Regions from separate parts of the Homo sapiens genome. Here region 1 is linked to region 2. Evidence: fine-mapped expression QTL. Tissue or cell type: lung. Region 2 holds a variant in brackets; the other region holds the start of a gene. All regions are shown on one strand. Distances are from middle to middle.

What was found. PIP is the estimated chance that this variant, and not a neighbour inherited with it, causes the effect.
Region 1: it holds the start of AQP9, and the variant in region 2 is fine-mapped to the expression of AQP9 in lung (TOPMed, PIP 0.97).

What each region holds. Positions count from the first base shown.
Region 1 is chr15:58,135,278-58,141,526 of GRCh38, reverse strand. It overlaps AQP9 (aquaporin 9), which reads right to left and starts at 3,146. Exons shown (of 6, transcript NM_020980.5): 1 at 2,851-3,146. The coding sequence starts at 2,961.
Region 2 is chr15:58,106,737-58,112,985 of GRCh38, reverse strand. No RefSeq gene overlaps it. Among named protein-coding and RNA genes, the nearest start is that of AQP9, 29 kb to the left of the region's middle. RefSeq lists an enhancer at 1,206-2,405 and a silencer at 2,189-2,408. The variant C/G (reference allele first, on the strand shown) is at 3,004.

The DNA.
Region 1 (6,249 bases), 29 kb before region 2:
GCACTGAAGGTAAAGATCAAGGGTACTACTTTTAGCAGAAGTACTTGCATTTTTTTCCATTCTAAGAGATGCCAAAAGTTAGACCTCTAATGCGGAAGCTTGACAGGGTGAGAAAAGAATTCAGCATCTGTCCGACTACACAGTATGTTATCTACTCAAAAGTCCAGCCCTGGAAAGCTGTCCTTCCACCTCAGGAGGAAATACAGCTGCTTGCTGGGTTGTTCACTTCAGCATCTTCAATAAGATGAGCTCTGTATCAAAGAATCCTGAAAAGTTTGAAGAGAGAGGAGAATATATAGAGTAGTAGGAGTGAGCATAGTCCCTGTGAGAAATGACTAGACATGACTAGAGATTCTCTGAAGTTCAGCCCAAGGAAGAGATCAGCCTTTTGCATTGCAAACTTTCCCCCCACACTAGTAAAGGTGAAAGGCCTACGTATCCCAATGACTAAAAGGCCAAATTAGAGCTAGCTTTTTGGCTTATGACTTAATTGTTGTTGGTTTTAGTTGTAGTTTATAAAGAATTTTTCATGGACCTTCTTTTCTCTTAATGCTACCAGTAGGCCTTATCAGTCCTTTATACCAACTGTTCCCAACCTTTTAGCACCAGGGACCACCTGTACCAGTCCGTGGCCCATGTGTTGGGGACCCGTAATTTATACCATGGTGTTAGATTAGTTTGAGATGCTCCCCATAAGAGCAGTTTTTGAAAGGAGGGAAAAAAAATAGAACCAGACTCCCAAGGTTGGCGGAAAAAAAACAATCTCACATATTTGAAAGACTGAGTCCTTTATATCCTCTGCCATCTTTTCGATGTTCCCCTTCCCTTTGCCTTATCAATGTACAAAGCTTTTTACTAGAAAATACAAGGCAAAATGCACATTCTCTAATAAAGCAGAAAATTACTTTGGATAAACTTTCAGCAAAACCATGTAGATTTCTTGGTTTAAAAAAATTGTGTTTGTGCAGGAACTTTTTGTTTATACATCCCCACAAGCTCCAACAAAACTGAAGATGATAATCAAGGTTGCAGATTTTATTAGGGTTCACTTTAGAAAATAAATGTATAGTATAAATGGAAATTAAATATTTCAGGAAATGACTGGCTTTATCCAGAACATACAAGTTTTAATTTTTCAACAGACAATATCAAGATGTTCTTTATTTAGCCCCTACCTTGCATAGTGGGGAAGACACAAGGCCAGTTGAACAGTGAACTGCTGAAAGCAAATTTCACTTTCAACACAGAAAGCACGGGATTATGAAACAGGTTCTTCTTAAGAAATACAGAGGGTTTTAAACTTTTTGGTTGCAAAAAAAAAAAAAAAAAGATGTGTAGTTCATTTCCTCCTCTGTTTTCTGCAGAGCACTAAGAATTGTAACTGAATTTGCTTCACTTTTCTGACTCACTCGTCACTGTGAGGCTGTAATCACTCTGTATTGACAACTGCTTCTTTGGGGCCAGATTGTCAAGTAACATGACAGAGGGGTCTCAGTCTCACTAAGAAAGATTTTCCAGTAAGCAGTGACCGGGAATCATAAGAATCACTGACTTTCATCTTCTCTCTTTTATTTCTTTTATTTTAGTTAGAAATAACTACTTACATAATGTCTTACTACATAATGTCTTGCTACATTATGACAGTGAGTGTGGTCAGAGCAGCCAGGAATGAATGCCAAGGGAAGATGAGGAGTGCAAGAAATTGTCCGTAACTCCCTGAAAATACTGTAACGAATCTGGTCTAATGTGTTTCTCAGAGACCAGAAAACTTATGACTCTCTCTTCACATTCCACTAGTTCAATTTTTTGAGTTCACATTTGTTTCTCATTCTTGGCTTAGCTGATGCATTCCAAGCTTATTCTTCTAAATTATTATGTATTTGCCCCAAGCAAAGAACTTTTAATGCACAGAGTTTATGGGCTATTCTCTATAACTTTAAGGAAAATGAAATTATTTATACCTGGAGTAGGAAATCCTTAAGCAGGATAAAAAAAACCAGTTGAAATCAATAGTTGCCACATGATAATACATTTCTATTCACAAATGGCCTGGTTCCAGGTAAAACTTCAGGATACAGAGAATGCTAGAACGTGCAGCAAAATGAAAGCCCAGACCACTTAAGTAAACTTTCCAGTCTCTTGTTAATAGCTGAGTAAATCTCTGGGCAATCCTCAAGAGGTTCTTAGAAGTCGTCCCTCGTTTATATCTAGAAGGTTCTTGTAATTGTCTTGTAAATCTCCAAAGATATTTAGAGATTACTTTGCTTTAAATAGAGACCAAAAATGACACAAAACTAAAGCTGGACTATTGCCTGGTACACTATTTCTACCTAGTGCAATTTTTAATTTCTTAAAAATCAAGTGATCTGACAGCACAATACTTGTCAAGTACTTGTCATACTGAGATGTTTCTTGCCATCCATATGTATATTTTTGCCAACTATATTTATTGACTATTGATGCTTATTCCAGGTGGCTGAGTCACCCCAATGCTTGGAGGAAGCAAGCAGGGTACAAATCAATTGATCAATGAAAACACTAACGACTGACTTTTAAATCACAAAGCCATTTTAGAGTATAAGTAAATACCTGAAATAAAGAAGGCACTTCACTCACTCCTTCTCTTCCATTCCCATCAACTTTTGTGGGTAAATGCAATAGGTAATTGAAAACTTAATATCACAACCCCTAAATAGTCAAACAGCCTCTAGTAACTTGTTTCTTCCTGGAAAAGATGAATCTGATCCCAATTAACTTAAATAAAACAAACCAAACAAAACTCTCCACTACCAGCCTGGCAGCTAGGGAGGCATTATTGGGTCTGAATGTAGGAAATCAGGAAATACTTACAATCAAGATGAACGTGCCCAAGAACTCAGAGAGGGTTTCTTTCGCTAAGCTGCTCTTCAAGACCAGTCTCTGCTTGAAGCTTTTTCCCTTTTCTGCTCCCTCAGGCTGCATCTTGGGGCTTCTCTGAGGACTCCTGTTTCTACCAATACCTACCTGTTGTGGTCCTCACTTTCACAGCCAGATGAAAATGGACGTTTTGACAATGGCTCACAGATTCCTGGAGATGTCTGGTAAGAGTCTCTGACTGTACAAATGCCGTTCCAATTAGAGGCTGTGGCTTAATCGTCTTCTGGTGGAACTGTCATTCCCTGTTCGCTGCTATTTGTTTGAATCTGCGACTTAGAACCCGAAATCCCCAAAACAATCCCTTTTGTGCCTGACAGATTAATCATTACCTTTATTCTCAAGGTACTTTTTTCTCTGTTGGTTTTTTTCAAGAGATGAGAAAAGAGATGTGCCAGTTGTGTTGCCAAATCACAGTGACGGGCCCTGGTCCAGAAAAGATTTTCATGTTACACAATTGCAGGCTTCTGATTTTTTTTTCTTCTCATTCAGAAGTGGGTGGTTGGGGTGTAGTTTGGAACTGTCAAATCAGGTGTAGATATATCCAATGTTAACATTCTTTTCTGAAAAAGGTTTTTATGCAAAATGAAGAATTTGAAGAAAATATAGATTTATCATCCTAGAAGATTAATCACTCTTGTTTTCTTCTGGTATCATTTCAGTGGCTTCATGATACCACTCTGAGGTTAGTAAGAACCACATAGGCCATCCTAGAGATGGAGAAATTAACATACAGAGAAACCATTGCAAGCTTCACACTGCAAGTCTGTAGGACAGATGGAGTCACCTCTTCGGTTATGAAACTGGGCTTCACTTGCTGAAGATACTTTAGGATCCAAGAATCAGAAAGATGGAGGAGTCACCTTTTTGGTGACTTCTGAAGTTTCTTCTGAAGAAACATTCCAGTTTGGGTTTCTTCTGAAGAAGCATTCCAGTTTGAAAATAGTCACTCTTCTTCATTCACCATGAAATATTTAGACATAATACATAGGAAATAAACAATAGCAGCTTGAAATTCTTTACTGCATGGAGATGACTGAGCCGGAAAGAGATCAATTAGCGTGTATGTCATTCTAATCAAACGAGAAAGGGAGCCAGTACACCTAACCGAGGCTCCTAGGTTATACCCTTTCAATTTGATAAATTGACATCCTTGCTGGCAAGAAACTGTGTTTGGGAGTAGCTCCTTGTCCTGCCAAATATTCAAGCCTTGTTTTTCAAAACTGGCTTATCTGAAGAAATAGAATATAGCATTAGTTTCTAAATAGCAAGGCAGGCCTAGTTTCTGATTACCAATGTGGACTCATGGAATTAGTATCCATGCTGTGTGGTTCCTTCCAGTCCTCCCACAGGGAAGCCAGCTCTGCATCAGGCCCTCCCCTAGCTTTGCAAAAAGGGAGGGAGGAGAGGACATGGAGAAAGCAGCTGGTGAGAGGCCAAAGGCAGAAGGAGACTTCTCATCTGTAGGTGACATTTAGAATTTAGACTTTAAAAAGTTATAACCTGCCTGAGGCCACACTACTGCAGAACCAGGACAAAACCTCAGCACTTTGGCTTTAATTCCTGATGAAGTTATCATAAATACCATTGTCTAGAAGAGTTACCTATGACCACACCATTACCAAGTCCCAGTGGATGGACCAGAGAAACAGGACTTTCTTACTGTGACTACAGCTAATAACATGCAAGAGCGTTCTCTGGTCTTCCCATTCACTCATCTAACAACTATTTACTGCACACTCATTATGTGCCAAGCACTGCACTTAACAAGAGCACATAGGGTTCTTGTCCTTCACAGAGCCTAGAGTCTAGTGAAGCAGACAGATGTAAGTGAAATAATCCCACACACATAAATACAAAATCACAACTGAGATGTATGCTGCAAAGATGGGGGCCATATTTCCATAAGCAAATATAGCAAAAGGATTTGACTTTGTTGGAGAGATCTCTGATGGCTTCTCCAAGGAAGTCATGTGTGGACTGAGATCAGAAAGAAGCATGGGATTAACTACATGAAGTGGGGAAGAAAGTGCATGTACAAAGTCCTTGGTGGCTTTGGGGGTAAGGGGTAGGGGACAGCATGATGCCTCTCAAAGAATGAGAGAAATTTACTGTGGTTGGCCCCAGAGAGAGTGAAGGAGTACAGCATGCAAAATGAGCCCTGAGGTGTGGGCAAGGGTCAGACCTTACTAGGCCTTGTAAGTGGTAGTTAGGGCTAAAAGTGTAAGTCATTAAGGTGGTTTAAGCAGAAATACGACATGATCAGATTAGAGTTTTGAAAAGATCCTCCGAGCTGTGAGGTGGAGAGGGGATTGGAGGGGGCTTGGAATGGTCATAGGCAGATACATTTGGGGGTATTACAGAATTCCAGAATTGGGTGGTAGTTTGACAGTGGAGAAATGGAGGGATCCAAGAGTTCTTTATATCTTAAAATTGGAAGAATTTCATGGATTAGATGTGGGAGATGAGGAAAAGAGACTGAGAAAAGTTGGTTCCTGAGTTCCTAACTTGCTGGGGAAGGTGCTGCTGAGCCCTGGGAGAGGAAATCCTGGAAGAGGACCAGAAGTGCAGTGGAAGATCATTAATTCTGCTTGTGCAAAACTGAGCCTCAGAGGCTTCTGAGCGATGTAAGTTAGGAAGTGATATGGGTCCAGATGAGGAAGGAATGTCTGTGTGCTCATAGTGGTGATAACTGGAGCCTGGAGTAAAGAGGCTCCCTAGGGAGAGAGTTTGAAGAGAACTGAGAGTTTGATATGGAACATTTCATGCTTAGGTAGAGGAGGATGGAATCTTTATTATTTCTGTTTTACTACCTTCAATTGACAGTCACACTTCTCACCTCCATCACCACGAACAGCTCATCATCAAACATAGCTTACTCATACAAAATATTCACTGAACAAAATGTTCCAGCCACCTAACAAAATGTTCAAAAGCATCTTAAGAAGGTAAGCAATGAATAGTATTCCTCCTTTATTCCATCTGGGAGGGAGCCTTTGTCAAAATACCCTGACTCCAAAGTTCTAACTGGAAGCATGAGGAAGCTTTTAAATTTCATTCACTCAGAAAAAGTTTTCATTGAATATGTACCATGTGTCAGGCACAGCATTAAGCAGTGGGAATTTAAAAATGAAAAAACAAAACCAGATCTCTATTATTAAGGAATTAATAGTCTAAGTGACTAAGATGTCTGAATGAATACACCATAGAGTAGAATAGAGTTGTAAGCAAGATACTGAACCAAAATTTCTGCTGTCACCATAGGAACATCTGAGAGCTAACTCTGCATTTGCCAACATGCAGAGGAAAGAATGAGTATGGTGACTGCTGTCAATG
Region 2 (6,249 bases):
GCCCCAATTCTGAGTCAATTAACTATATTTTTCCATCTTAACATCCCTCTGGCTGAAGACCAACTTACCAGTCTTCCTAGGAACTGAACTGATCCTGGGGTTGAACCTCAGGTAGCAGTCAGTTATTATATTGATTAGAGGAATTGGCGGGTACAGATTGGGGGCATCATCCTCACGCCCACCTCTGTGGCATCCATGATGATCCATTTCCAGTCCCTTCCCTGGCTCTACTCAATTCCTTGCTGGGGGAACTCTACCCCAAGCTCTGTTCTTGGCCTCTCTCTTGCTCATTCTCTCACGTTTCTTTTCAAGCCTGAGCTCTAGCCTCTGGTTTGCCTCACACAAGTGTTCTCCTTGGGGGTTCTAGGTCCTGAGATGAACTGAAGACCTCGAATGGTAGCCTCTGTATCACAGGCTGTACCCCACATTTTTCCCGGCAAACTTTCTTGTCTTCTTACCTTCTCCATCTCTTGTTGACATAACCTATTCTCTTGGTCTCCCAGGTTTGAAATCTTGGAGTCAGCTTTAATGTAGCCCTGTCCTTAGACTGCAAATTTAGCCCTCTACCATAATACCTCTTAGATTTACACTGTCTTTTCCTGTCTTACTGATACAGCCCTAAACCTTTTTATTACATGTGTTAAGTATGAAAATAACCTGTCAACTCCAGGGTTTATTAACCTGGGAACTAAACACCCTCTATAAGGTCCACAGATGAGCTTTAGTGGGACTATAAAACCCCTGAAAATATTTTTTAAATTCTTGTGTGTTTGTGTACATACACGTATTTCTTGTGTCAAATAATACTTTCCATCAGCCTCTTAAAGGGGCTTGTATCAGTTTCCTAGTACCACCGTAACAATCACTAAAAATTTAACGGCTTAAAACAACATAAGTTTTTTCTCCTACAGTTCTGGAGGACAGAAGTCTAAAATCAAAGCTTTGGGAGGGCTTCACTCCTTCTGGAGGCTTCCGTTTCTTTGCCTTTCCCAGCTTCCGGATACCACCAGCATTTGTCGGCCTGTGGTCACCTCCTTGCACTAGTCCAGCCCTCGCTTATGTCGTTACATTGCCTACTCACTCTGACCTCCTGTCTCTCTCTGATAAAGACCCTTGTGATTACATTGGCCCCACTCAGGTAATCCAGGATAGTCTCCCCATCTTGAGATCCCTAACATTTGCAAAGTCCCCTTTGCCACATACCATAACACTAATGGGTTCCAGGAATTAGAATGTGAATGTCTTTGGGAGGCCATTATTCAATCTACCTCAGCAGTCAGTGCCCCAAATATGTTGCGAGCCACTGGCTTAACTGGTTTCTTTAACAATCCAGAAAATTATTTCTCTAATGTCACTCTTATCCCGGCATTCTCCTGCTACATTTACAATGTCTTCTCTTACCTATCAGATCAATCCACTCTCTGCACCAAGCATTAAGGGCCATCAGCCAATGAGACCCACTTTATCTCTCCAATGTCATCCCCAACATCCCCCAGCTGGGACATTCTAAGTCATTCCCCTGAAAATGCATTGTCACTCTTAACTCTACACCTGTTCACACTGTTGCCCTGCCAAGAATGCTCTCTTATCTCACTCCTCTCCACCAGTGTAATTTCCTCCCTTTTATCAAAGACTTTCTTCTGCGTAATTTATCATTCATAATGTTTTCCTTTATGAAGTCTTAGAGTTGTTACTGACCGGTACTATAATCACTTATTATTTTGAATCATCCTCTTGCTGGGGATGAGTCAATATTCTGAGGAAAAAAGCTTCTTATACATTCCTTGGAACACCTAAAGGATCTTATGAATGGATAATTCCTTTTCGTCTGTTTCATCTTTTCTCAGAAAACAATTATCTACCTCAAAACACATTGTGTCCTTCATTCTGGCCCTTCTTCCACCATCTGATAATAGCTGTTCTGAAATATGGTCCACCATGTGACCTGCACAAAGAAAAAAACGTTCAATGGGACAAAAATTTTTTAAAGTATTCAACTAAAAATATTAACTTTATTTCAACTCTTGATATTTAAAAGCCTGAAAGATATTTTGCAGGTATTTTCTCTCATAAAAGACTGAAAATGGCATAACTTAGAAGGCTTTAGAAAGTGAGATTAGGACTGCGTGTGGTGGCTCACAAGTGTAATCCCAGCACTTTGGGAGTCCAAGATAGGTGGATTGCTTGAGCTCAGGAGTTCCAGACCAACCTGGGCAACATGGCGAAACCCTGTTCTCTGCCAAAAATACAAAAATTAGCCAGGCATGGTGGTATGCACCTATGGTCCCAGCTACTTGGGAGGCTGAGGTGGGAGGATTGCTGGAGCCTGGGAAGTTGAGGCTGAAGTGAGTGTGATTGTGCCACTGCACTGCAGGCTCAGCAATAAAGCGAGATCCCGTCTCAATAAGTAAGTAAGTAAGTAAATAAATAAATAAATAAATAAATAAATAAATAAAGTGAGATTATTTAGCCTATGGTACAGATGGAAAGTGCTGTTTATTAATAGTGAGCTGGAAATACACTCCATCTGTCTTTTCCGCTTCCCATCAATTGGGGATGGGCTTGGCAAACATGCCTCAACAACTTCTCATGAGTTTCTCTTTAGAATCCTGGGGAAAGTCTGTGATTAATAATAGGATCCTTCTACCCTCACCTTCTCCATTTGCTTCTCCCTTTGGCCCCAATTGCAAATTGTCTTATTGTCTCTCTTCTGAGAACCGAATTTCTTTTGTGACTCTATTTTCAATGGTTCATTCTTTTATATCTCCTTTCCTACCTGCATCTCTGGGACAAGAGAAAGAGAGCAACTTACCTGAGTCCTCACTGTTTGCTCAACTCTCATTCCTTTGAATTCCAAACTCTTTGGCCACATTGTCCTTCACCTTTTCTAATTTCTGTCATGCTGTGGTCACAGTCCTTATATGAATGTCCCAAGAGCACCTCAACTCATTCATATAGGAGGTCACCCTCCTTCCTGTAAAGCCTTTTCTTCCTCCTGTATCC[C/G]CATCTCCCTAAATGGCATCACCATGACCCAGTCATTTCATCCAGACACATCTTTAAACTCTTCTCTCTCCTGCAACCCTCGTTTGCAATCCATTAACATGTTCTCTCAATCCTCCATTATTCTTCTAGAATGTTTCTCTTCTCTTCAGCCCCACTGCCACAGATATAATCCGGGCTCTCGGACTGTCTTGCATGATTTAGTACAAAGTTTCCTAATGAATCCTCTGGACTTGTTCTGCTCCAGCCTGTCCTCCACACTGTTGGAAGACTGACTCACCAAAGTGCAGACTGGATCATAGAAGTCTTCTGTTGTCATCCTCCCTGCCCACTCCCCTCAACTCAGTTGTGAGTTTGTGTCTCAGTTGAGAGATTAGGTCAAGTAGGACAGAGTGGAGTCTATGGGTGACTTTTCTTGGGAACCTTTCCCAATCCTTTCCAAGTAGAATACACCACTTCCTCCATTGTACCTCCTCCCACACGTACACTGTATATTCTCCTACCATAGCACTCACAATACTACAACACTCTATTTGTTCACATGGCTGTCTCTGCCTACTAGAAGAAAACCTCTTGAAAGCAAGGACTACATAGAAAATAGTGTCTATGCCCTGTCCTACATCCCCATGCTGACTTCTGAGCTTTTCTGCAACTGCAGATGATAGTTACAGAGCATGCAGATGATAGTTACAGAGATAGTTACACCTTCCTAGCTTAAGTGTGGGTCCACCTGCTTTGCTGGTTGAGGGCTTTATCCAATGCCATGGGAACTTGTTCTGCACAGCTGCAGAGCAACTCAGAAGTGCCAAGAATGTATTGCTTCCAGGACAAATCTCAACCAATGAGAGATAGAAATCTGTGGGAAAATACTGCAGCTTCTTGGCCCTTGTTAAGACCATTCTGAGGCATGATTTCTTAGAGGATAACCAGAGGAACTGAGCCCCAGTTGTCCACAACAACACACTCATTAATGCATCCTTTGCTAGCTTTTATCCCTTCCCTCTCTTGATTTCCCCACTCCTCCTCCTGTGCTTCCTGGGAGCACCTCCTGAATAAACTAACTACACCCTAACACTTGTCTCAATATCTAAGTTAGTGGAGATTCCAAACTAAGACAGACAATTTCTTATTCATCTTTTGGTACATTTTAAATGCTTAATAATAGTTGATCTATAGACAAAGGAATACAGTAATGAGGGGTGTAATGATTCCAGAAGCCAGATGGCAAGTTGTCTTAGAGTCAGGGCTGATGAGCTGGGATGGAACAGTGGGAAGTCAACAGAACTTTCCAAAATTTAACAAGTAGTCAGAAAGAGGCTAGGGACAGAGACTTTACAGAAGACAGTTCGGGCAAAAATCTGAAAAATGAACCAATAGACAAATTAGTTGGATAGTTGAAGATTAGTATGAACCACAGGGTTCTATTTAGACTGGAAGGGGTGGGGATCACTGTTGGAATGATTTCTTTGAGCAACAAGGCAGAGCAGGGCACACTGTGAGACAAGGTCTCTTGTTTATAACTGATGCTACATGCATTCCACAGCTTACAACCTCAACCTTCATGAATTGCTCCACTCATCTTTCTAGGCTCATATCTCATCATTTCTCCTAAGAACCATGCTCTCAGTCCCTGTACATCTATAGTTAAACATATGGTATCTAACTATGTCCTATTATCTCAAGCTTCCACTCTCTTGCCCATGTGATTTCCTTGGCTTAGAAGAGACTTCCCCAACTCAATCAACCTAGCTAACTTACAATTGTCCTTCAAAGCTCAGCTCTAATATTATCTCTTCCAGGAAGTTTTTCGTGTTCTCTTCCCCACTATCTCACAAAACTAGGCAACGCTCTTCTTGCACACATAGTACCTGTGTACAGAGCCGAGTGCACCCTGATTGTGGTCTGCTTCTCTGTCTCCTTCACTAAACTGTTCTCTTTCTTGGGAACTTCACACAAAAATCTAACACATTTGGAATGTTTAACACAGAGGATTCTGGATAAATGGCAGTAGCAGTGGCAGGATAGCTTTTGTCTTCCTAAATCACCACATAAAAATAGAGAGTGGGCCAGGCGTGTTGGCTCATGCCTGTAATCCCAGCACTTTGGGAGGCCAAGGTGGGTGGATCACTTGAGGTCAGGAGTTCAAGACCAGCCTGACCAACATGGTGAAACCTTGTCTCTACTAAAAATACAAAAATTAGCTAGGTGGGATGGTGCATGCCTATAATCCCAGATATTTGGGAGGCTGAGGCAGGAGAATTCCTTGAACTGGGAGGCAGAGGTTGCAGTGAGTCGAGATTGTACCACTGCACTCCAGCTTGGGCAGCAGAGTGAGACTCTGTCTCAAACAAACAAACAAACAAACAAACACAGAGTGCCTAGCCAGCAAAACCAAAAACTCATGATCAACAGTTATAACAAAACTGAGTGACAACATCTCCCCCCACCCCCAAAATATAAACAGGTGGAATAAGCCACTAACTGCTACAAAGCTTGAGTCTTATGTTCTTCTGTCAGGGAGGAAGCAGAAAGAAGCAAGAAGGCATCAAAACTTGAAAAGAGAAAAACCCTGAATCAGTCAACAGATATCCAACAGAAAACATGGGAGAAGAGGGATATGAAGCCAGCAGCTAACACTGGGAAAGTTCAGATCATCTCTAATAATAGGTGAGTGCAAGGGGCAAATGGTGAGGGCCTAGGGGACAGGGGAAGTCCAGCCCCTCATAAACTCTCCAAACTGACCCATCAGGGCTCCCTTCCCATTTAAGTTCTGACTCCAGGAGAAAGTGCTAGGAGTGGAATCAAAATAGAGATGAAGGTTTGGATAAAAATGAGTGGGAGGAACAGAACCAAAATATCCCAGAATGCAAGCCTTTAAATATTTTTTAACACTACCTGAAAACAGCAAGAAGGAGCTTTGTGAAGTTTAAAGAGCTAACTGAACTTCCTTCTTCTAAATGTTCATGAAAAGAAAGTTGGCCAATCAAATCCACGTAAAAATTAATAACAGAAAACTACTGAGGTCAAATTCTATACAAAATTTGTATAAGAAAATGAGATACCCATTTATTAGAAAGGGGGAGATAGCAACTTGACAATGGAGGAAATAATGTAATTGTGGAGGTAAGGAGTAATGCATACTTGAGCCAGTGATATAGGGTCAGAATTGAAAAACTGGAAATGTAAGAGGCATTGGAGAAATATAATTTCTAGGATCTAAGAGAAGGACTATATTTGGAAGACTAAGTG